Homo sapiens: one gene and its partner. The protein of the gene in region 2 binds, or shares a complex with, the protein of the main gene of each other region. Each region holds a gene or a part of one and is shown on either strand. Other genes may lie near its edges. The genes, in order: POLR2B and GTF2H5.

What was found.
Region 1: GTF2H5 (region 2) and POLR2B share a complex: the UniProt entries of both Homo sapiens proteins name them as parts of the TBP-based Pol II pre-initiation complex.

The regions. Positions count from the first base shown.
Region 1 is NC_000004.12:57,014,909-57,027,201, forward strand, and holds part of POLR2B (DNA-directed RNA polymerase II subunit RPB2), read left to right. Parts: intron 1-593; coding exon 594-748; intron 749-2,134; coding exon 2,135-2,333; intron 2,334-2,651; coding exon 2,652-2,820; intron 2,821-5,990; coding exon 5,991-6,087; intron 6,088-7,243; coding exon 7,244-7,338; intron 7,339-8,421; coding exon 8,422-8,672; intron 8,673-8,753; coding exon 8,754-8,843; intron 8,844-9,096; coding exon 9,097-9,204; intron 9,205-9,977; coding exon 9,978-10,091; intron 10,092-10,468; coding exon 10,469-10,629; intron 10,630-12,293. UniProt on the Homo sapiens protein: Catalytic core component of RNA polymerase II (Pol II), a DNA-dependent RNA polymerase which synthesizes mRNA precursors and many functional non-coding RNAs using the four ribonucleoside triphosphates as substrates.
Region 2 is NC_000006.12:158,188,999-158,201,291, reverse strand, and holds the end of GTF2H5 (general transcription factor IIH subunit 5), read right to left. Parts: intron 9,316-12,293; coding exon 9,135-9,315; 3' UTR 1,948-9,134; downstream 1-1,947. UniProt on the Homo sapiens protein: Component of the general transcription and DNA repair factor IIH (TFIIH) core complex, which is involved in general and transcription-coupled nucleotide excision repair (NER) of damaged DNA and, when complexed to CAK, in RNA transcription by RNA polymerase II.

The DNA of each region.
Region 1 (12,293 bases), on a different chromosome or scaffold from region 2:
TTGGTGCTGTCTTTCAAATGCATTATGTAGTTTATACTTACAACACATCTCAGTTCAGAATCGCCACGTTTCAAGTGCTCAGTCACATGTGGCTATCCCCTGTATTAGATAGCTAGACTATAAGCCATTTGTCTGAGGGTGGGTGTGAGCAGTCAGGCTTACGTCTGATAGGTGGGTGTGAGAAGTCAGGCTAATGACTGGGAAAGTATGGTCAAAGCAAAGTGATATAGGGCTGGTTTTTGAAAGGTTACAGGGTGAGATATATGTCATCAGCAAAGAACCAAAATAAGAAATTGTCACATACTAGTGTTTGTGGTATTGAAAAAATATTTCCTACGTTAACTTGCATGACATTATTACCAGATAGTATTGTACAGGTTTATAATTGCCAAGGTTAGATTTTTCATTCATAAAATTTTAAATTATACCTAAGTTTTTAATATGTTAAACAATGGTAAACTAAGATTTGCACATTTTACTTGATAAATTGGTTGCTCCAGAAATTTAGTAGGATTTGTATTGTATTTTTAACTAAGCCTAATAATAAAGAGAAAATAAAAATTTGTGGAACTGTTTTTTCTTTTTATATGTAGGTTTCTATGATCAGAGATATTCGAGAGAGGGAGATTCGGATCTATACGGATGCAGGCCGTATTTGTAGACCACTTCTGATTGTGGAAAAACAAAAGCTACTTTTGAAGAAGAGGCATATTGACCAATTGAAAGAGAGAGAATATAACAACTATAGGTAAAAACATGCAGTGAGAAAAATGTGTGTATTAAAAATTGAGATAGAATTTACATACTGTAAAATTAACCTTTTTTTATTTTTTATATTTTTATTTAATTTTATTTATTTATTTATTTTTTTGACACAGCCTCAGCTGTGTCGCCCATGCTGGAGTGCAGTGATGCGATCTTGGCTCACTAACCTCCACCTCCTGGGTTCAAGCAATTCTCCTGCCTCAACCACCGTAGTAGCTGGGATTACAGGTGTGTGCCACCACACCCAGCTAATTTTTGTATTTTTGGTAGAGACAGGGTTTCGCCATGTTGGCCAGGCTGGTCTTGAACTCCTGGTCTCAGGTGATCCGCCTGCTTCAGCCTCCCAGAGTGCTGGGATTACAGGCATGAGCCACTGCGTCCGGCAAGTTAACGATTTTTAAAAAGTATACAATTAGTGGTTTTTAGTGTGTTTGCAATGTTGTGCAACCATCACCACTATCTTAATTTTAGAATACTTTCATTGCCCCGAAAAAACTCTGTATCCTTAGGAGTCACATTTGTTTTTCTTAACTTCTATTATGAAGCAAGATAATTAATAGGATTTTATTTAAGCTTAAAAGTCTTTTGATTGCCCAGGTGTAGTGGCTCATGCCTGTAATCTCAGCACTTTGGGAGGTCAAGGTGGGAGGATTGCTTGAGGCCAGGAGTTCAAGACCAGTCTGGGCAACATATTGAGACTCCCATCTCTCCAAAAAATAAAAAAATTAGTCAAGTGTGGTGGAATGCACCTGCAGTCCAGCTACTCAGGAGGCAGGAGGATCACTTGAGCCCAGGAGTAGTGAGTTTTGATTGTACCAGCCTGGGCAACAGAGCAAGACCCTGTCTCAAAAAAAAAAAGTTTTTGTGATATATTAAAATCTATTAATAGTAATAATGCGAAATAACCTATATAATCTAAATTATTACATATAATATGACAATAATATGAATAATATAATAAGAAATTTAGTAAAAAGATGAAGCTGCTTTAAATATTTATTTTTTAGCAATATGAATGTATAGTTATGTATACTAATATAAAAATCATTCAAACAATATGTATGATAAATTTAAAAAATTGCCCTCCAATGTATACTCTCTTCTTCACAAGTATATACTGGTAACAGTTAGGTGTGTATTCTTCCAGTGCTTATTCTCCAGCAGCTTACCTATTTCACTTGTCAACAATCATGTAACTATGTTGGTCAGTTATATATAATATTAAACTATATATATATATAAATATATATGTATATTTAATATATAATATTAAACTTATTTAAATATAAATATAGGAATACTTTTAAGTAGGAGGAATAGTTAGTTAAAATACTTGAGGAAGTAGAAAATTGAGTGAATTCTTTTTTAGTTGGCAGGATCTTGTGGCCAGTGGGGTAGTGGAGTATATTGATACCCTGGAAGAAGAAACAGTGATGCTTGCAATGACTCCAGATGATTTACAGGAGAAAGAAGTAGCTTATTGTTCCACATATACACACTGTGAGATTCATCCCTCAATGATCCTTGGTGTCTGTGCATCTATTATTCCCTTTCCTGATCATAACCAGGTTGGTATCACTTTTTGTCTTCTGGTGTGAGGAATTGGGAGAAGTAATAAAAATTGAAAGTAACTCTGTAGTCTTATCTGGAGGGAAAAAGCCTTTTAATGAAAAGGCTATTAACTCCTACGGAATCAGTATTTGATATAATTGCTGTTGTGTTTCATGGTTAAGAGCCGTAATTGATTATTCCAAATGGTTATTACTTACTGTTTTTGAAAAAAATCAGGAGTTTTACCAATCATATTTCTTTTGATTTATTGTCAGAGTCTTTTCCATTAGTGATAGTAACTTTTTGTTGTTTCTGCTTTTCATTTTTACGTTTAGTCCCCTAGAAACACATACCAGTCTGCTATGGGTAAGCAGGCTATGGGAGTTTACATCACCAACTTCCATGTTCGCATGGACACATTGGCCCATGTTCTCTATTATCCTCAAAAGCCACTTGTGACTACACGGTCTATGGAATATCTACGATTTAGAGAGCTGCCAGCAGGTATGGTCAGTTTTGCTCTACGTTATTTAAGATCCTTCTGTGCTTAAGGCACTTTTCTGGGTGCTTGGGAGGATTAAAAAATAAATATGACATAGTGCCTGTTCTCACGGAATTTATAATATGGTGGGAAACATGAACATAATAAAAAGGTAGGTATGTGGAAAGTGTTTTGGTGGAGGTACAAAGTCCTTTGGAAGCACAGACTGATGGAAGCAATTAATTCCTGTTGGAAGTCTAGATCCAGTTTCATGGAGAAGGTGGCATTTTAGATTGGAGCAAAATTGATGAAGGGGTATTTGCATTTGAGAGGTGGTTTAAGCAAGGGCCCAGATGGACGAAGACATGCAAAATGTACGGTACAGTTAGTCATGTCAGCTTAGTGGGAGTGGAGTGTAAATATATGGAAGTGAAAGCTTGGTCTCAGTGTGGAGAGAGCTTGAACAGGTTGAATTTTATTTTGAAAATGGAGACCCATCCAACCTTTTGGATCAGGGAAGTAATACAATTAGAAATTTGTTTTAGGAATACCATTCTGACAGCGGCATAAAGAGTAGATTACAATCAGGTACTGTATTAACAGGGAGCTAATTTAGGGGTTTTTGCAGTAGTATAAATGTGAAATGGCAAGGTCCTAAAGAAATGAAAAAGAATGATGGGTAAGATACCTTTTGAAATACACTTGATAGGACTTGATGACTGGTTGAGTGTGGAGCAATGAAGAGAGGAATTGGAAATACTGTTGGTGTTTGTGGCTTGGGTGATTAAAGAGAGGTGCTTTGAATAGGTTGGGGGAAAAATAAGATTGGGAACATGTTAGAAGGGGAAAGAGGTTTTAGAGGTAAGACAATAATTTTGTTTTGGATATGTTGATTTAGTGTCTTAGTGTCAGAACACTAAGACGTGAACTTCCAACAGTGAGTTGCAAACATGATTTGAAAGACGGTCAAGTCTAGAGATGTAAAATTTTTAATTTATTAATGATAATTATAGATTACTATGAAATTGCCTAAGGAGAATTTAGAATGAGAAAAAGGCCAGAGGCAGACAATTTTAGACACCAGGAAGAGAAATTAAGAGAGAAGATTTGAGAAGTAGCTGATAAGGAGGGGAATTCCAGGTTTGTAGGAGATTCTCAGGGAGACTGGATGGTGGGTAAAATGGTGAAGAGAAATCTGAAGGGTATGAGTGTTGACTATTAAAGGAGACAGTAGAGTTCTTTGGCACTGTTATCTTTTGTATTAACAGACTTTTGGCTTTGAATGTGGGTAACATTTGTTATTTGTTAGTAAAGTTTATCTTTAGTGTATTGTAATGGGGCTCTACCATTTTGATAGCAAATTCTCATAGGTTAAAATTACTTATTTTCAAAATCCTCCACAAGGGGTTCCTCTTGTCTAGAAAAGCAAAATCTGTTAGGTTGTCTACACAGTATGCATGTATCTTTGGGCTGTGCTTGCAGTGCTGTGTTTTCTCCAACATTTAGATAATACAGTTTCTTTATGGCTAGAGAGGAAAATAAATATACAGAAGGACTAGGTTTGAAAGCAAATGTTCCTTTGGTACTGGTGTGAAGTGGAGAGTCATGGCTGGCAGGGACTGCAGTTCTGTTATTCCTGACTTCATCATGGCATCTTTATTTTGAAATTCTTTTTTTTTTTGTAGAGATAGGGTCTACTTTGTTGCCCAGGCTGGTCTCAAACTTCTGGGCTCAAGTGATTTTCCCACCTCAGCCTCCCAAAGTGCCGGGATTACAGATGTAAGCCACTACGGCCAGCCCATCGTACCATTTTTAAAAAAACTTTTAACATTTTACCACATTTGCTCTATTATTCTCTCCCTTTTTATTTCTCCTCCTGAACCACATGAGAGTAAGTTGCAGGCATGAAGCCATATCATTCTTTAATTCTTCAGTATGTGTTTCCTAAGAACAAGGACATTCTCTGCAGTGTAGCCATCAAAATCAGGGTAACATTGATATCCATATAGTCAGCAGTCCTCAATTCAAATTTTGCCAGTTGTCCTAATGATGTCTTTTTTTTTTTTTTTTTTTTTTGAGAAAGCAACTGTTATTGTATTCAAACCTAACGATGTCTTTAATGGGTCTAGGAGCTAATCCAGGATTGTGCATTGCATTTAATTGCATGGTTCTTTAGTTTCCTTAATCTAGAACAGTTTCTCAGTCTTTCCTTGTCTTTCATGACCTTGACATTTGTGAAGAGTTCAGGAAAGTTATTTTTGCATTGTGTCTCAATTTAGGTTTGACTATTGTTTCCTCATGATGATATCCAGGTTATGAATATCAAGTTATTTTATTTTATTTTTTTGAGACGGATTCTCGCTCTGCCACCAGGCTGGAGTGCAGTGGCACGATCTTGGTTCGCTGCAACCTCTGCCTCCTGGGTTTAAGCGATTCTTCTGTCTCAGCCTCCTGAGTAGCTGGGACTGCAGGCGCGTGCCACCACGCCCAGCTAGTTTTTGTATTTTTATTAGAGGTGGGGTTTCACCATGTTGGCCAGGATGGTCTCAATCGCTTGACCTTGTGATCCACCTGCCTCGGCCTCCCAAAGTGCTGGGATTACAGGCGTGAGCCACCATGCCCGACCTAAATATCAAGTTATTTTATGGGCTCATCAAACAAAGTGTTTTGGCAGCAGCAACTAAGAATTTCATTGTGGTGGGAAAGATATGATATTTTCTTGGTGGCAGAAGGAGAGGGGAATGGGGTAGTATCAGTTTCAAACCTAAAAGCTGGGGCTTGAGTCTATTGCTTATTAATTTTGGGATCATGGGTAGATTATTAATTCACTCCTCTGATTCATGAGAATAATAATGCTTATCTTGTTTATGGCACAGAGTTGCTGTGAGGATCAGGAAACTTGGTTTGGGGAGGCACTTCCTAAGTAGGAGGTGACTCATGTGTAATCACTTACTATAAGAATGGATACATTGGGAGTGACTAGTCCTAGGATTTGCTTGTGGGAGATATTTAGCCATCAGAGTAGTTGCCTCACAGATTGCTATTCCAGGAGGAATAGACTTTGGCAGTTACCATGATAACAAACACCCAAGCATTTATGGCAAATATGATGTAATTAAAGTTGATTTAAAGAAAGGGCAGTTTTTCTGTTTTCCAGGTGATGTTTTAATGTATGCTCTTAAATTCACTGCAGGCATCAACTCAATTGTGGCCATTGCATCATACACTGGATATAATCAGGAAGACTCTGTTATCATGAATCGTTCAGCTGTAGACCGCGGCTTCTTCAGGTTAGTATTTTGTAAATTTGTCAAAACACAGATACAGTGGAAACACTAATTTTTTATGCAAAAAAAGTTCTTAAAATACAGTTTAACTACGCCGCACTCCAGAAAGTGGAAGGACTGGTTGATGGTCACAAACAGCTGAAGATACTACTTGTATCTCTCAGGATTTTCAAATGCTAGTATTTTGAGCCTTTCTTTTGGTAAGGAAATATACAGTTGCATTTAGATAATATAGAAATGTCCAAAGAAGAAATAAAAATAACTTAGAATCCATAGATAACTATTGTTAAAATTATAGTGTGTTTTCTTTTCGCTCTTTTTTTCCATTATGTTTCAGTTTGATTGTCGACAAACAGACCTCAAATTCAAGGCATATAAAGATTGTTTTAAAAACTGGGAATTTAGTAGAGGGGATGGATTTTCCTTTGTCTGTGTAGTTTCAAAGGGTAGCACTAGAACTCAGAGGACAGATACTATGGCTTAATGTAAAAACTTTTTTTTTTTTTTTTTTTTTGAGACAGAGTCTTTCTGTTGCCAAGACTGGAATGCAGTGGTGCAATCTTGGCTCACTTGCAATCTCTGCCTCCCAGGTTTCAAGAGATTCTCCTACCTCAGCTTCCCAAGTACCTGGGATTACAGGCACGCACCACCATGCCAGAGTTTTTTTTTGTTGTTGTTTGGTATTTTTAGTAGAGACGGGGTTTCACCATGTTGGCCAGGCTGTCTCAAACTCCTGACTTCAGCTGATCCACCCATCTCGGCTTCCCAAAGTGCTAGGATTACAGGCGTGAGCCACCATGCTCAGCCAATGTTAAAACTTCTCACTGGAAGTGTTTGAGTAGAACCTAGGTGACCATCTTTCAGGGTTATTATGTAATGGATTCTTAAATGTGTCGGAGGTTGGATTCATTGACCCCTGGGTCTCTTCCATTTTGACATATAATACTAGGTGGTTAAGGTTATGGGTCAGATGCTACATATGTATAACTCATGTGATAACATTTAGAGTTTAACTCAGATCCTTAATGCAGTTACTCTTGTCCCAGATTCGTAGTTTAAATTGTCTCCCAAATTTCAAGTAAATGAGAAATTGTTGGTATAGTCTCAGCCCTTTTGTTAAAAGAAAATAGACTTTACCTTTAGAACCATGTGTTTTTAGGTCTGTTTTCTATCGCTCATACAAAGAACAGGAGTCTAAAAAAGGATTTGATCAAGAAGAAGTTTTTGAGAAGCCTACACGTGAAACATGCCAGGGTAAGTGACACTAACATTTAAATGATGGAATCCAAAGTTAACTTACTGTGGTTTTCCTAAGTGATTTTGATGGGTTGTGTCACCCTGTGCCTGCCCCTGTCCTCCTCTCCCTTTTTTTGTGCAATGAAAGTGTGTTTTCATGTTATTCTTAGAGTTCACATCTAAGAAAACATGTGTATTTGATAAAAGTCTTTGCACCTAGGAGTGAGCTTGCTATAGACCTTCCTTCCTGGTAGGTCCTGCATTGAGGAGGGAGTTTAGGAAATCAGAGAGGTCATGCAATTTCTGGGGACACACTTCACACCTGTCCCCCTTCCTTTCTAAATTATGGTGTGATCATAATATTTGTTCAGCCACATTGTTTGTAAACATTTAAAAAATAACCAGTGAGAAGAGGATACCTAGCATTTGTTGTTTCTTCTAGAAAACTCAAACTTACTTTCTAGTTATTTATTTTGACAGACACTTAAAACCTGCTTATGCAGTGGGATGGATGGGATGTTCCAGGGAAATGCAATATCTCTGCTACAGTGTTGACTCTGAATAGCATTGCATGAAGTAAAATGTATTTTGTTTCCTTTGCCATCTTCCTGTTACTCCCCTTCCATTGGGTGGCTCTGTGTAGTAGTGAATTGATGTCCAGTGGAGTTAAGATTGAGTTAAGATGAAATCCACAATTTCTGTGGGAGGATGTGTACAGAGGGCATCCATAGATACTCTCTTTTTAATTTAAAAAAATTTTTCTCCTGTACCCACTGATGGCAGAGATATTCTTTCTCTTGTAATATAGAAATCAGAAGATGACAAAAAACATATCCAAAGTCACTCGATAAATGTCTGTCATGGAAGAATCTGCTTTCCCAGTGCTGATTCCAATGTTCTTTTCCTTCATAGACTTTTTTTTTTGTTTTCTGTGTGGGCTGTAGTATTAGAGTTCAGAATAGTTTGTAATATTTGGAATAAGGGTGTGATTCATGGTATAGAGACTCCTGTGGCCTTCTCTCTGACTTGGAACTGATTCATGTATGTGGTTTTTAATCTTTGTTGGGGATTATGTGACATTCCGTGTCTATTTCCTCACAGGCATGAGGCATGCCATTTACGACAAGCTGGATGATGATGGTTTGATAGCTCCAGGGGTTCGTGTATCAGGAGATGATGTTATTATAGGCAAAACAGTCACCTTGCCTGAAAATGAAGATGAATTGGAGAGCACCAATAGACGCTATACCAAGAGAGACTGTAGCACTTTTCTCAGAACTAGCGAGACGGGCATTGTGGATCAGGTTATGGTAACTCTCAATCAGGAAGGATATAAATTTTGTAAAATAAGGGTGAGTACAACTTTGTTCATGTAGCTAGTTTTAGAAAGTAAACCAAATCCACTTAACTAACTTATTTTTATATGAATTTAGGTACGCTCTGTTAGGATTCCACAGATTGGAGACAAATTTGCTAGTCGACATGGTCAAAAGGGTACTTGTGGTATTCAGTATAGACAAGAGGTAGGTATCTTTGATCTCCCTCATGCCCAAACCAGTTTTGTTAAATATTTTTTTTTTAATCAAAATTTGCTTTAACTTAAGAGCTCAAAGATGATACAGGTTGAACTTTTTGATTTTATTGTTGAATAAGTATATGAACATACCATGTTTAAACAGAATTTGGGACATACAGTAATTCAGTTGGGAGAACTGAAATGTCAGTTCTAGTTTAGTATATGTATCTTTGAGTCCCTTTTAAAATTTTTCTTTGTAGGATATGCCTTTCACCTGTGAAGGTATCACCCCTGATATCATCATCAATCCCCATGCCATCCCCTCTCGTATGACTATTGGTCACTTAATTGAATGCCTTCAAGGGAAGGTAAGAGATGTTCTTCAAAAATATAGATTCTAAGCTGATGCTTCTTCTAAAACTCTGATAGGTGATTGCTCTCACATTTGAGCCAGGGTACTTTGTAAAAAGCTAGTGTGAGACTTACTTTTCTGCTTTCAAATTGCTTATGATTCTGCCATTTTTTTTGGCAATTTGCAAAGTTATGGACAAGTCAGAATTTTTGTGAGATATACTACATTCAACTAATACATATGTGATTTTCCTTTTGACTAGTTCTTTTCTGTAGATGAACAGTTAATTTGTTGATGGAGAGTTCAATGTGAACTTAATAATTTTATAGTTCTATTATCAGCTCTGCATACATCTTTTGGTGGAGGTTTTCTATTTTTAAGTATTCTTTTAAGGTAAAGTGGTAATAGTCTAACATATGGATGGCTTGGTTTTAGGGCATTAAAATGTCATTTTCCTTTGAGCCATCTGAAGTACTTAGGAGTCTCACTCTTTTTGTACCTGATCCCATGGATCGACTTCTATTTGAATACTTATAATTGAGTTTTTCTTTTTTAAGCAAGTTTATTTGTTCTAAATGTTTTGTGTAAGGTTATAAAATGAACCTTATATATCACAGCTTTCCATAACATAGATTTTGAGTTCAAAATCTTTGAATTTTAAAATACTTAAAATAATACTTTCAAATTTTAAAAGTATTTAAAAATTTTTTGAATGCATTTTTATTGATATGACTTTTAGGGGGAGACAGACTGAAGCAACATTTTAAAGAGTACTTTTTTTTTTAAAAGGTATCGGCTAACAAGGGTGAAATTGGTGATGCCACTCCATTTAATGATGCTGTTAACGTGCAGAAGATTTCTAATCTTTTATCTGATTATGGCTATCATCTCAGAGGAAATGAGGTATATTTGCTCTTATAGTAGTAATTTGCCACTTGTTTTTTTTTGTATGTGTGTAGTTTTATTCTGAAACAATGTAACCTTTTATTGAAGTATCATATGTGCACATATAGAAATGTACAGCTTGATGAATTTTCACAAAGTAAACACAGCTGCATGACTAACACCAAGATCTAAAAATGTGAAGGTAGCGACTGAACCTTTTTTAGTCGCTACCTTTCCACTCCCACCCCAAGCTAATTACTCTCTTAATTGCTAACATTATAGATTAGTTCTGTGCTTTAATTTTTATATAAATGGAGTAACACAATATATACACATATCTTCTTTGACGTTGTTTAATTTTTAGGTCTACACTTCAAAATCTGTGTTTGTTGCAGGTCCTGTACAATGGGTTCACTGGTCGAAAAATCACATCACAAATATTTATTGGCCCCACTTATTACCAGCGTTTGAAGCATATGGTGGATGATAAGATTCACTCTCGTGCTAGGGGACCTATTCAGATCCTCAATAGACAGCCCATGGAGGGTAGATCTCGGTAAGAACTGTATCATCATCATTATTATTAATTAACCTTATATTATGAAAAATGTCAACACACCAAAATGGAGATAGTGGTATAGTGAATGCCTGTGTGCCTGTTACCCCCATTTCAACAATTATCGACTGATGGCCAGTCTTGTTGCATTCATCTCTGTCCTTCTAACCTTTGATATTATCATCATGTTTTAAAGGCAGAGTCTCACTCTGTCACCCAGGCTGGAGTGCAGTGGCATGCCCACAGCTCCCTGCAGCCTTGAACTGGGCACAAGCAATCCTACCTTAGCCTCCCAAGTAGCTAAATTAATATTGTCTCTTAAGTCCTTTTTTGAATTTATTGGTTGTCCTCCAACCTTTTTTTTAACTACAGGCATGTGCCACTACACCTTTAAAAAAAAAATTTTTTTTTTGTAGAGGCTAGGCGCAATGGCTCATGTCTGCAATCCCAGCACTTTGGGAGGCCAAGACGGGTAGATCACCTGAGGTCAGGAGTCCAAGACCAGCCTGGTCAACATGGCAAAACACCGTCTCTACTAAAAATACAAAAAATTAGTCGGGCATGGTGGCACACACCTGTAATCCCAGCTACTCGGGAGGCTGAGGCATGAGAATCACTTGAACCTGGGAGGCGGAGGTTGCAGTGAGCCGAGATCACACCCCTGTGCTCCAGCCTGGGTGACAGAGTGAGACTTCATCTCAAAACAAAAAACAAAAAATTTTGTAGAGACGGGGGTCTCACTATGTTGCCCAGGCTGGACTTGAACTCATGGCCACAATCCTCTAGCCTCAGCCTTCCAAAGTGTTGGAATTACAGGCGTGAACCACTGCACCCAGCCCTCTTGATTATTTTTAAGCAAAGCCCAGACATCATATAATTTCTCCTATAAATTTTTCAGTGTATATCTTTAAAACAATGGTTCTCAAATGTCTTGATCCCGGGAACCCAAAATGCTTTTGTTTTATGTGAGTTGTATTTATTGATATTTATCATATTAGAAGTTAAAGCTGAGATTTTAAATTTATTGTTTTAAAAATGCTAATAAGCTCATTACGTGTTAACATAAATAACATGTTTTGGCTGGGCGTGGTGGCTCACACCTGTAATCCCAGCTACTCGGGAGCCTGAGGGAAGAATTGCTTGAACCCAGGAGGTGGAGGTTGCAGTGAGCCAAGATCGTGCCACTGCACTCCAGCCTGGGCGACAGAGTGAGACTCTGTCTCGATAACAAAACAAAACAAAACAAAAAACCATGTTTAATGAAAAATATATCTATTTTCCAGATGAATTTAGTGACAAGAATAACATTGGTTTACATTTTTGCGAATCTCTCTAATGACCTGGCTTAATAGAAACAGCTGGATTCTTACATCTACTTCTGCATTCATTCCATTGTAGTATTTTATTTTTTATATTTAAGTATATGAGGAAGTTCTAATTTCATGCAAATAAGTGGTTGGAAAGAGAGGAATATTTTGGCTTTTTTTTTGTGAGACAGTCTCACTCTGTCACCCAGGCTGGAGTGCAGTGGTGCGATCTCGGCTCACGGCAACCTCCGCCTCCCGGATTCAAGCAATTCTCGTGCCTCGGCCTCCCAAGTAGCTGGGATTACAGGTGTGCGCCACCAAGCCCAGCTAATTTTTGTATTTTTTGTAGAGCCAGGG
Region 2 (12,293 bases):
ACCAATTATGAGTGCTGCAATGACTTTCCTCCGTCTAACCAAAGGATCCAACTCAAGCTAGCTACTGTCAATAAATAAGATCCTGCAACGACTTGGGGAATCAGTTATCTAATTAGTGAATTTTAACAAAAGCTGGTTCCTTGCTGGGCAGACTCAGCATTTCCTTGGCAGTAAAAGGAAACAGCTGTGCTGGTAGATTAGCCTACTGGAAACCGAACGAAACCCAAAAACAAAACCTCCTACCCAGAGTCTCCATTGTGCACACACCGGCCCAGGAGTTCTCAGCTCTGAATGCACAGCAGAAGCACCAGGCAGGCCTTTTAAAGATGCTGACGCTTGGGTCATATCCCAGAACAACTAAATTTGAATGACTGGGGGCTGAGGCCAGGCATCAACATTTTTAGAAAGCTCCCCATCTAAAATCAGAAAAAAAAACTTTCCTCTGAAATAGAAATCCTGCTTCAGGTTTTTCATAAAGGAGCATGAAAAATTAAGGGAAAAGGCAAGTGTCAAAGCAGTGTGATCTCATTGGGATAGGGAGTAGAACTCTTTTTTTTTTTTTTTTTTTTTGAGACAGTCTTGCTCTGTTGCCCGGGTTGGAGTGCAGTGGCGTGATCTCTGCATACTGCAAGCTCTGCCTCCCGGGTTCATGCCATTCTCCTATCTCAGCCTCCCAAGTAGCTGAGACTACAGGTGCCCGCCACCACGCCCGGCTAGTTTTTTGTATTTTTAGTAGAGACGGGGTTTCGCCGTGTCAGCCAAGATGGTCTCGATCTCCTGACCTCGTGATCTGCCTGCCTTGGCCTCCCAAAGTGCTGGGATTACAGGCGTGAGCCACCACGCCCAGCCAAAACTCTTTTTATATTCTTTAAAAAAGTGAAGATTGTCATTAGCTTTTAAAATTTTTTTTGAGGCTGGGCGTGGTGCCTCACGCCTGTAATCCCAGCACTTTGGGAGGCCAAGGCGGGTGGATCATGAGGTAAGGAGATCGAGACCATCCTGGCTAACACGGTGAAACCCCGTCTCTACTAAAAATACAAAAAACTAGCCGGGTGTGGTGGTGGGTGCCTGTAGTCCCAGCTACTTGGGAGGCTGAGGCAGGAGAATGGCGTGAACCCGGGAGGCGGAGCTTGCAGTGAGCCAAGATCGTGCCACTGCACTCCAGCCTGGGAGACAGCAAGACTCCGTCTAAAAAAAAAATGTTTTTTGACACAGGGTCTCACTTTGTTGCCCAGGCTGAAGTGCAGTGGTGCAATCACGGCTCACTACAGCCTTGACCTCGTGCTCAAGCGATCTTCCTGCCTCAGCACCTCCCCCAGCCCCAGTAGCTGGGACTACAGGCATGCATCATCATGCCGGTCTTTTTTTTTTTTTTTTTTTTTTGAGGCAGAGTCATGCTCTGTCATCCAGGGTGGAGTGCAGTGGTGCCATCTTAGCCCACTGCAACCTCTGCCTCTTGGGTTCAAGCGATTCTCATGCCTCAGCTTCCCCAGTAGCTGTGTGTGCACACCACCACATCTGGCTAACTTTCGTATTTTTAGTAGAGATGGGGTTTCGCAATGTTGGCCAGGTGGGTTTCGAACTTCTGGCCTCAAGTATCCACCCGCCTTGGGCTCCCAAAGTTCTGGGATTACAGGTGTGAGACCACGCCTGGCCTAATTTTTTTGATTTTTTTAGTGGAGACAAGGTCTATGTTACCCAAGCTGTTCTGGAACTCCTAAGCTCAAGGGATCCTCCTGCCTTGGCCTCCCAAAGTGCTAGGATTACAGGTGTGAACCATCATACCCAGCCTGTTATTAACATTTTAATTGTGGCTACTCCTGAGTGGTGGGATTATGGTTGAGTTGTATTTTCTTTTGTTTCCCTTTTTCAATCTGCCTGCAATGAATGTGTATCGCTCATAAAAAGAGAACTTCAATTAAAAATAAAAACAGGCTGTGACAGATATAGTTTTTTTAAAATTTTTATTTTAGACTCAGGGGGTGCATGTACATGCTTGTCCCATGGATATATTGGGTATAGGTGGGGATTGGGCTTCTATTGTACACATTACCCAAAGAGTGAACACTGTACTTAAACGGAGTAATTTTAAAGGGAGTGCAACGTAACCAAAAGCTCAGTAGCCAAGATTAAATCATGTTGGGAGCAGCAGAAACAGGTTTTCAAGAAAGTAAATCAATTTTAGTGACGAATTTGACAAGCATTCCTAAAACAGAGAATTAAAAAGGAATGAAAATAATGAGATAACCACATAAAGGTGCTAATCATGGAGAATTAACAAATTTCTGAAGAAAACAAACAAGACAGGTATTAAAGTTGTTAACAGCTTATTCAAAAACGTCAAAAGAATTCTCCCCAAAGCAAAACAAAACAAACCCCGTTTGAAGAGATCAGGAAGACTCATGTATTCCAGGCAACATTAAGAAGTTTTAAAATTTCAAAGAAATAATTAACTGCAGGAAAGGGAGGGAGGGATGAAGAATGATGGCCAACTAGAAGAAGAACAGCTGGGTGAGAAAACAAGAGATGAGCCGAGAGAACGCTCCTGCAATCTAAACAGAAAGAGTTCTTCAGAAGTTAAGTCCAGGCCGGGCGCGCTGGCTCACGCCTGTAATCCCACCACTTTGGGAGGCCAGATTACTTGAGGTTGGGAGTTCGAGACCAGCCTGGCCAACATGGTGCAAACCCCGTCTCTACCAAAAATACAAGATTAGCAAAGTGTGGTGGCGCATGCCTATAGGGATGGCTGAGGCACGAGAATTGCTTGAACCTGGGAGGTTGCAGTGAGCCGAGTTTGCGCTATTGCACTTCAGCCTGAGCAACAGAGCGAGATCTTGTTTCAAAAAAAATAAAATAAAATAAAGTCCAAACTGGACTCAGTAAATGTCTGAGGACAGTGAAAAAATAGCCTAGTCTTTCAATGGATTGTGATCCAAACATTCGAGACTAATTATCATTCAAGAATGAAGGCAAAGATAAAAATGGTTTCAGAAATGTTAACCCTCCAGACAACTTTCCTGGTAGAGTTACTCAGAGACAGTTTTGAGATCAATGAAAGCATCAGACCGCTGGTGGACTAGCTACCCAATGCTCTGTTTTTAGGGATTCTCCTCCTTCATCTGTTAGTTTCTGCACGGCATTGTGAAAGTGGGGAAAACAACGCATATGTGTGTGTTTCTATCTTCCCCTTTATCATTGTACTCTTCTAGATTCAAGGTAACTCAGTTTCATAACGTTCTGCTTTATATCTGAGGGGACTTCAAAAAGTTCATGGAAAAATAGAATTAAAAGATAAAAATAAAATATAATTTCTTTTATTTCTCAACATAAGCTCCATTAAGTTCAAGCAATGATACCAGCCATTCAGTCTATCCCTAAAGAACTGAGGGTCCTGGGAAATTAACCATGTCTTTTTTATTAGCTGAAGAAAAACAGGTGCCCTTCAGGGATTTTTTTAAGATTGGGAAACAAAAAGAAGTCAGAAGGAGCCAAATCAGGACTGGGAGATGGATACCTAATGATTTTTGATAGAAATTCTAGCTAAACTGCCCTTGCTTTATGAGAGGAATGCGCAGGGGAACTGTCACGGTGGAAGACCCTCTGGTGAAGCTTTCCCAGGCGTTTCTCTGCTAAGCTTTGGATTTCTCTCGAAACACTCTCATAATAAGCAGATGATATCTTTATTTGGCCCTCCAAAAAGTCAACAAGCAAAATGACTTGAGGATCCAAAAAACTGTTACCATGACCTTTGCTCTTGATCAATCTGCTCTTGCTGTGACTGGGCCACTTCCACCTCTTGGTAGCCATTGTTTTGTATTTTGTCTTGAGGGTCATACTGGTAAAGCCATGTTTCTGTTACAATTCTTTTTTTTTTCTTTTATGTTTGCAAAATAATTATTTTACAGCTCAGCAAAAGAAATATTATTGGATATTTTGAGCATAACGACTCAGACAACTATAGAGTTTTTGAATGAGTAGTGACTATTTTGCATGACGACTGTGCTTTTCTTTCTGCATTTGGGTATCTTATTTAAATGTGTGTTAGTGGGTTGGTTTGGCTGCCATGTTAAATTCTTGTTGTATCTGGTCATTTTCTGAAGATGATCTCTCCCAAAATGATCTCAGTCCTTTCAAAATCACCAAGCAGTCTTTATACCTGTCTCTGAATTCAAGGTTTTAAAAGTCTGTTTTTGCTACAATTCTTTGAAGAAATGCTTCAGGATCTTGATCTCACTTGTTTGACATTTCCATCGAAAGCTCTGCTTTTGTCTGCAGCTGACCTGGGCTGGATGGTTTTGGTATCCATTGAGTGGAAAGTGTGCTCAACTTTAATTTTTCAGTCAGATTTATAAAAGCTGAACCAACTGAGGAGCATATTGTGTTGGCTATCGTTTCTGCTGTTAATCATTGGTCCTCTTCAAGTAGGGCATGAATGAGATAATTTTTTCCTCACGAAGTGGCATGGTCTGCTGCTGTAGGTTTCATCTTCAACATTGTCTTGTCCTTTCTTAAAATGAATTATCCATTTGTAAACTGATTTCCTTGGGGCGTTGTTCCCATAAACTTTTTGCAAAGCATCAATGATTGCACCATTCTTCCACCTAAGCTTTGCCATAAATTTGATGTTTGTTCTTGCTTCAGTTTTAGCAGAATTCATATTGTTCTGACAGGGGCTCTATTTAAACTGATATCCTTCTTAGTGCCTCAAACTAGATCCTGTTCAGACATGTTATAATGATGAGTTTATTTTGCTGCAAAGATTTTTGAAATCTATGCATAATTTTTTTCATAATATGCATTTTCCATCAACTTTTTGAAGACCTCTTGTGTGTTAACTCACATTCATTTTAATAGTCTTTAAAGACGGGCATTCCTGTTTACACAAATGAGCACAAAGAAATCCAATCAACGAAACATCTGAGATCCCAGAGCTAGTAAGCAGAGATCTGACACTTGGACTCAAGGAATCTAGATTCAATCAGTGCTTTTCATTTTTATTTTTTTTGAGATGGGTGGGAGTCTCGCTCTGTCACCCCGGCTGGAGTGCAGTGGCACGATCTCGGCTCACTGCAACCTCCACCTCCCGGGATTACACCATTCTCCTGCCTCAGCCTCCCGAGTAGCTGGGACTACAGGCGTCCACCACCATGCCCAGCTAATTTTTTTGTATTTTTAGTAGAGACGGGGTTTCACCTTGTTAGCCAGGATTGTTTTGATCTCCTGACCTTGTGATTTGCCCGCCTCGGCCTCCCAAAGTGCTAGGATTATAGACGTGAGCCACCGCGCCCGGCCCAGTCAGTGCTCTTAATCACTTGCCTATCTTGAGAACAGTGTTTTTAAAAAAGTTTATCCAATAATCTCATCCATAGACATTTCAGTGTTATCTTTGCTGCAAATGAAATTGAGCTACGTACACTTGAGAATATTTATTGACTATATTTGCAAACTGCATCATTTCTCCATCTTTAAAATATACCCCTTCCCCATCTGTTAAGTTTGTTAAGATAGAATGATCTCAGTATTTTAGTTACAGCAGAGGCTTTTTGTCAGAGCTTTTACTCCTAGTTGTCAGCTAAGTAAGATTTATTGTATAACTGCAAAATAGAGTAGTAAGTACACTACCAACTTCTCAGAAAAAAGTACAATTATGTCAAATCACCTGTTCTAGAAAATGTAAAGAGCAATAAAATCATTAATCATTTGGATTACCACCTATAATGCCTATCAGAAATAAAATGCAGTAGTGTTTGTTGCCTATTATCAGTAATGCTGTTACTGTTCACCAAAACTGATTTCTCAAAATACATTGTTATATCCATCAACTGTGATGTTAGATAGGATCCCTGGAATTTTAAATTAATCACATGAAATTTCACAAGGAAATTGGAATTCAAGGAATTAAGACCTTGAATTTGACCTAATACAGTATTAAAAGAAAAAACCTTTATTGAGAAATATAACACTCAATATCACAACTTCAGTCCATAGTTCTATTAAGAGACAAAGTTTCACTCTGTCATCCAGGCTGCAGTGCAGTGGCACCTTCTTAGCTTACTGCAGCTTCAAACTCCTGGGCTTCAGTGATCCTCCTGCCTCCAGTTAAGTCATTTTAATGCTACCTTTAGGACTTTATTTAAAAAAAAAAAAAAAGTCATAAATTTCTTGGTGCCAAGCACCAACAGCCTTGTTCTGGACATGTAAAGTATGCCAAATCAAATAATGCTAGTCAGATTCCAATAAACAGCCTAGGTGAATGTCGCTTATTTCCTGTTCACCCATAGTTGGACATGTCAGCTAAGTGGTTACAGGTGGGCTTCCTATCATTCACATCACTCTATCTTTCTTAATAATGTCCAGAGAAAGAAAGATATTTAACATTTGCCCCAACACAACTTTTTAAAAATAAGAGCTCATATTTTCCTTCACTTATTTCACTTAATACTCTTTGCAGTTCTAATACCTAACCTTGTTTTTACTAACCTTGTTTTCAGACTGTCCCTTTCTCCCTTAATCACCTAGCCTTGTTTCCATGTGAATAAGCTCTCCCTTAGCTGAGAAAGCCGGAGGAACTCCATTTGGTTCCTTCATTTACAGGACATCAAGGACTCCTTACCCACCCCCTTTCCTCAAGGAGTTAACTTGTGTAAGCTGACTCTCAACATATCAAAGAGTCCAATTAACTCATAAGGTACTGAAGCAAGCAATGTACGAAGTTCCCAGGATTTCGCTCAAGAGATACACCATAAAGCCTTGAGTTTGTGTCTGGCAGAGCCCCCACACCTGACATCTTATGATAGATTTAGAGCCCCTGCACCTGGAACTGTTTGTTTCTCTGTAACCATTTGTCTTTTTAATTTTTTGCATGTTTTTACTTCTGTAGAATTGTTGCAACTGAGCTCCCGTCCCCTTCCTAAACCAAAGTATAAAGGAAAATCAAGCCCCTTCCTCGGAGCTGAGAGAATTCCAAGTGTGAGCCACCTCTTGGCTGCCAGCTAAATAAAGGACTTTTAAATTCGTCTCAAAGTGTGGCGTTCCTCTAACTTGCTCGGGTACAACACAGTCACTGTTCAATAGTTTTCTCATAAATATCTTTTTTTCTCTTTTTTACTTCAGTGGCAAAAATCCTAATACCTTTTGAACTCTGGGATTCTATCAAAAATTTTCTAAGTTTCATGTTAATATAAAAGGTTGGTGACAAATGCCTGAGGCATACTAAAAGTTGATTTAGACATGCCTGAAATATAAGATACATTAGTAACATTTTGGTATAGCTGGAAATTCATTTTTTTTTTTTTTTTTTTTTGAGATGGAGTCTCCCTCTGTCGCCCAGGCTGGAGTGCAGTGGCACAATCTCAGCTTACTGCAAGCTCCGCCTCCCGGGTTCACGCCATTCTCCTGCCTCAGCCTCCTGAGTAGATGGGACTACAGGCACCCGCCACCAGGCCCGGCTAATTTTTTGTATTTTTAATAGAGATGGGGTTTCACCGAGCAGGATGGTCTCGATCTCCTGACCTCGTGAGCTGCCTGCCTCAGCCTCCCAAAGTGCTGGGATTACAGGCGTGAGCCACCGTGCCCAGCCTGGAAATTCTTAAGAATCATCTTTTACTTAACTAGTTTTAGTAGTAGTAACTCATCAAAATTTTTTGCATTGCTATGAGGGAATGAAAACTGTGAACTGTATGGACTGAGTTATATGGGTGGGAATTATGTAAAATATACCTAACTGAAAATTTCCAGATTCAGTAATGCTGTGTAAGTGAATAAATATGGTACACAGGTGCTTTGAATAAACATACCATAAGGAAGCAGGTAAAATGGATTTGTAAGAGTCTACAGGTCATGAAAATTCTCTTTTCTCTTGGAAAATTCCCTTTACAGGAACCCACCCCAATGACATGATCTTCAGGAAGGGAAGCAAAGCCCCTCTCAGTGTTACTGTTTTTGCCTTCAATTGATCACAGAACTCTCTCTTGCTATATATACACACATACATATACACTTTTTTTTTTGGAGACAGGGTCTCACTCTGTCACCTAGGCTGGAGTGGCAGTAGCAATGATCAAGGTTCACTGCAGCCTTGACCTCCTACCTCAGCCTCCCCAGTGGCTGGGACAACAGGCAGATTTTTGTATTTTTTTTTTTGTAGAGACAGGGTTTCGACTCCTGGACTCAAGCGATCTGCCTGCCTCAGCCTCCCAAAGTGCTGGGATTACAGGTGTGAGCCACTAAGCCCAGGCCGCAATGTATTTTAATCTAATATGTCCTTTCCTGTTGGGCTGACTTTGCATATGGCTGTTCCTATTTTTCTTTTTTAGATAAGTTTGATAAGTATTCTCATAGGGAATAAGGTACAAGTAGAATTTTTTTTTTTTTTTTTTTTTTTTTTGAGGCAGGGTCTCTCTGTTGTCCAGGCCAGAGTGCAATGGTGTTTTTGTAGCAACCTCGGACTCCTGGGCTCAAGCAATCCTCCCACCTCAGCCTCCCTAAGCTGTTTTCTTAATAAAAAAGAATACAGATGGGAAAATGTGACCAACAAAGTTTGAACAAGGAAAAACTAAACAAAGCAGCATGTGCCTTTCCCACTGGTTGTTTCTAACCCTCTTAAAAACAATATTCTGTTTTCAGGGAAATGCAAACTGTAGTTTACATTAGTTTTACATTGTCTTCCTCAATAGAGCTGACTGGTATGCAGGTAGGATTTGTGAGACGTACATAATGTCTAAGTCCCCACCTTGGCATATTCAAACAGCAAATCTATGACGTTTCTAACTGAAACCAAACAATCACATCCACGCAGCAAAAATGCACAGATCACAGGGATGAGCAAAATAAATACCTATGTTACACTGACATGGTATTAAAAAGGCAGGAAAAGCATTGACATTTGTATTTTAATAAAGGATAATAAAAGCCAAATTACAGCCAACTGTTAAAGCTTTTTTTTTTTTTAAATTCTATGGTAACAAAATCAGTTCAGGGGCTTTTTTTCTGAACAAATGATCATGATCCCTCAGTCTTTCCCGTGGCATGCTCCTAAAACAACCCTCTATGTCTAATCAGTCACCTAAGATATTGAGTGGCAAGTCTTTCACAGTTGCTGCTTATAATTCCTAAATGGTCCATATTGAGTATTTTCATTTCTGGGTAAGGGAAAAAGCATTTTGGTCCATTAATTCACCCACTCGCTCCTGGAGGACATTAACCAATTCTGCTATTACAAAGACGTGAGTGTCATCAATGTCTTGAATGATGAACTTCTTCCCCAGGGCATTGGACTCATCCAAGTACAGCAGAAACTGCTTCATGGCAGGATCACTGTAAAGACAAACACATGATTGTAAGACAGCTTGTTGTCAAATCACATCACAGAGACTTGAGCAATTAAATGTGAACATGTAGAATTTTTAGAATGATTTTTAAAGTTCTGTTACTCAATCCCTCACTTCCTCTCTGCCTCAAGTGTTAACAATTTATAGACATGGCTTCATTTTAGAACTATTAGTGTAAGTTGGCCGGGTGCGATGGCTCACACCTGTGATCCCAGCACTTTGGGAGGCCGAGGTGGGTGGATCACCAGGTCAGGAGATCGAGACCATCCTGGCTAACACGGTGAAACCCCGTCTCTACTAAAAATACAAAAAATTAGCCGGGTGTGGTGGCGGGTGCCTGTAGTCCCAGCTACTTGGGAGGCTGAGGCAGGAGAATGGTGTGAACCTGGGAGGCAGAGCTTGCAGTGAGCGGAGATCGTGCCACTGCACTCCAGCCTGGGCGACAGAGCGAGACTCTGTCTCAAAAAAAAAAAAAAGAACTATTAGTGTAAGTTGAAGAGGCAGAGGCCAATGGCAAGATTTTTAAAGAATAATTTGTCACTAAGTGGAAAAAATAAAAGAATATTGAAAGCTTTGTAGTTAGTAGGGCCTAGAATCACAGCTTTCTTAACTGATTTAAACACTGAATTTCTTCCTTGTCTATGCCCATTACATCTAAGGAACCAGTAGGTGTTCAATGTTTTACCAGTGACAAATTAACTTACAAAACCAGTTAAACAGTCACTTTGGTCAGGCAGGGTGTATATCAAGAGTCATACCTGGATTCAACCCCAGCTTCATCACTTACTTGTGTGACCTTGAATAGAATAGGTACTTAATCTCCCAGAGCCTCTGTTCCCAACCTCAAAAGTGAGGCTACATAACAGAATTGTTTACGGAAATTAAAGGAGATAATGTCAAGGACAGTGCTTGGCTTGTAATAGGCATTCAAGGAAAGAGGTCCAAATTCAATTTTATTAACTTGTGGTTTTTGGTTTGGAAAGAATAGGATAGTCATAAGGGAAAAGAGGGATACAATTTCTTCTCGGGCAGTACAGATTTACAGCAAAATGTCTCTTTCATAAAAACCTTGAATCATGACAAAGGACACTCTTTAGATCTAATACACAATGTGTTTAGCAAAAAATGAATATAAAAATGTCAAGCTGCACCACAGATTTTTGCAATTCTTGAGAAAAAAATCTCATATAATCTTTTGGTGTCTTGAGAAATGTCAATATCAATTGTAAAGGTAACAATTTAATCCAAAAGATGTCACTATAATTTACTGAAAACAAGAAAAATAAGATTTAAGTACAAGCACAGGTATTAACTGATGCTAACACGGGATTTACTTCTATCCCTAGATGAGTATGAGCCTCAGAACTGATTTGGGGGACTTTGGGTTTTACCAAGTGACATGATTTAACTTACAAACTGACTTAAATTTTAACTGTAAGGATCATATTGGCTGCTGGGTTGAGAAAAGACTGGGAGTGGCAGAGGCAAGGATGGAAGCAGGGGACCCATGAGGTGACATCCAGGCAAGAGATGATGATTTTGATGTAGGTGGTAATAGTGGAGGTGATGAGAAGTGGTTGAATTCTAGATATATACTGACATAAAACCAACATAATTTGCTAATACTGGACATGAGCTTTGAGAAAGAGGAACAAGAAAACTCCAAGATTTTTCATCTGAGCAAATGGAAGACTGGAGGAGATTTTTACTGAGATAAAGAGGAATGTGTAAGATCTGCAGGTAAGATCAAGTTTGGTTTTAGGGTGGGCATGGTGGCTCATGCTGTAATCCCAGCACTTCGAGAGGCCTAGGCTGGAGGACTGCTTGAGGTCAGGAGTTAGAGACTAGCCTGGACAGCACAGTGAGACCCTGACTCTACTAAAAAAAAAAAAGGTTTAGTTTTTGATGTTATATTTTGAGATGCCTACTGGCCCCTGAGTGAAGAAGCTGAGTAAGAAGTGACCACCGAGGTAGAAAGAAAACCCAAAGAGTCCTGAAAGCGATGTGAACAAAGGCTACTCAGGAAGTGGGAGTGATCAATTCTGTCAAAGGCTTATAGGGTATAGCAAGGGCTGAAAATTGATCCCTGGATTCAGAAAGTCACTGGACCTTGGCAATAGCAGTTTTGGTGGAGTCATAATAGGGAAAGCATGACTGGAGTGGGTTTCATATGGGAGGAAAGAAATTAGAGACAGTGAAGAGAACCAAGTCTTCTCTTTACTGAGAAATTTTGCTACAACGACCAGAAAGGTAGACTGGAAGCTAGGAAGAGGTGTGGGACTCTGAACAGATGGGAATATCAACAGACCATAGGTCTGGCGAAGTTGAAGAAATGATGGAGTGAGGTATGAGAGGGAGTGAACTGGAAAGAGGAGGTGGTGGTCAGAGTCAGATGCCTGAAATGAGACTGAAGAGCTGGCACGAGGGTAAGGAAGGATAGGTCTAGCTACAACTATGTGAATGAGTGGCTGTGATGAGGTGGAGGACAAGCTCAGTGGAAGAGGAGGCCAGGGAACTGGGAGAACAGGGTATCTAAAGGACTACCCACACGGATACTAACATCACTAAGGATTTGAGAGAAGAGCTACTGAAGATAGTTTTTTCAAGGGAAAACCTTCAGGACAGATTGGGGTGTCTGTAGATGATTATAAAGAGGAGGGTTGGTGGGTAGTCCACTCTGATGATCTGGGATTGATAACTGGGGGTTTCTATGGAAGAGGGAGGGAGAATTTCTGGAAGTGGCAATAATAAGCAAGGTACTGATCCTGTTTCCTGACCCAATGGTACAAGAGGGTGCCTTTGTAGAGGAAAAAAGGCACCACCTGATAAGGTGGTGGGAGAAGCAGTGAGCTCAGGACAAAGTCAGGTTTTGTCACAGCAAAAAAGGAAAAGGTGGGTGGGGGAAGGAAAAAGGAAAGTTCAGAGAAGAGGCTGAGGCTACAGGGCATCCTGCTGCTGCCATCT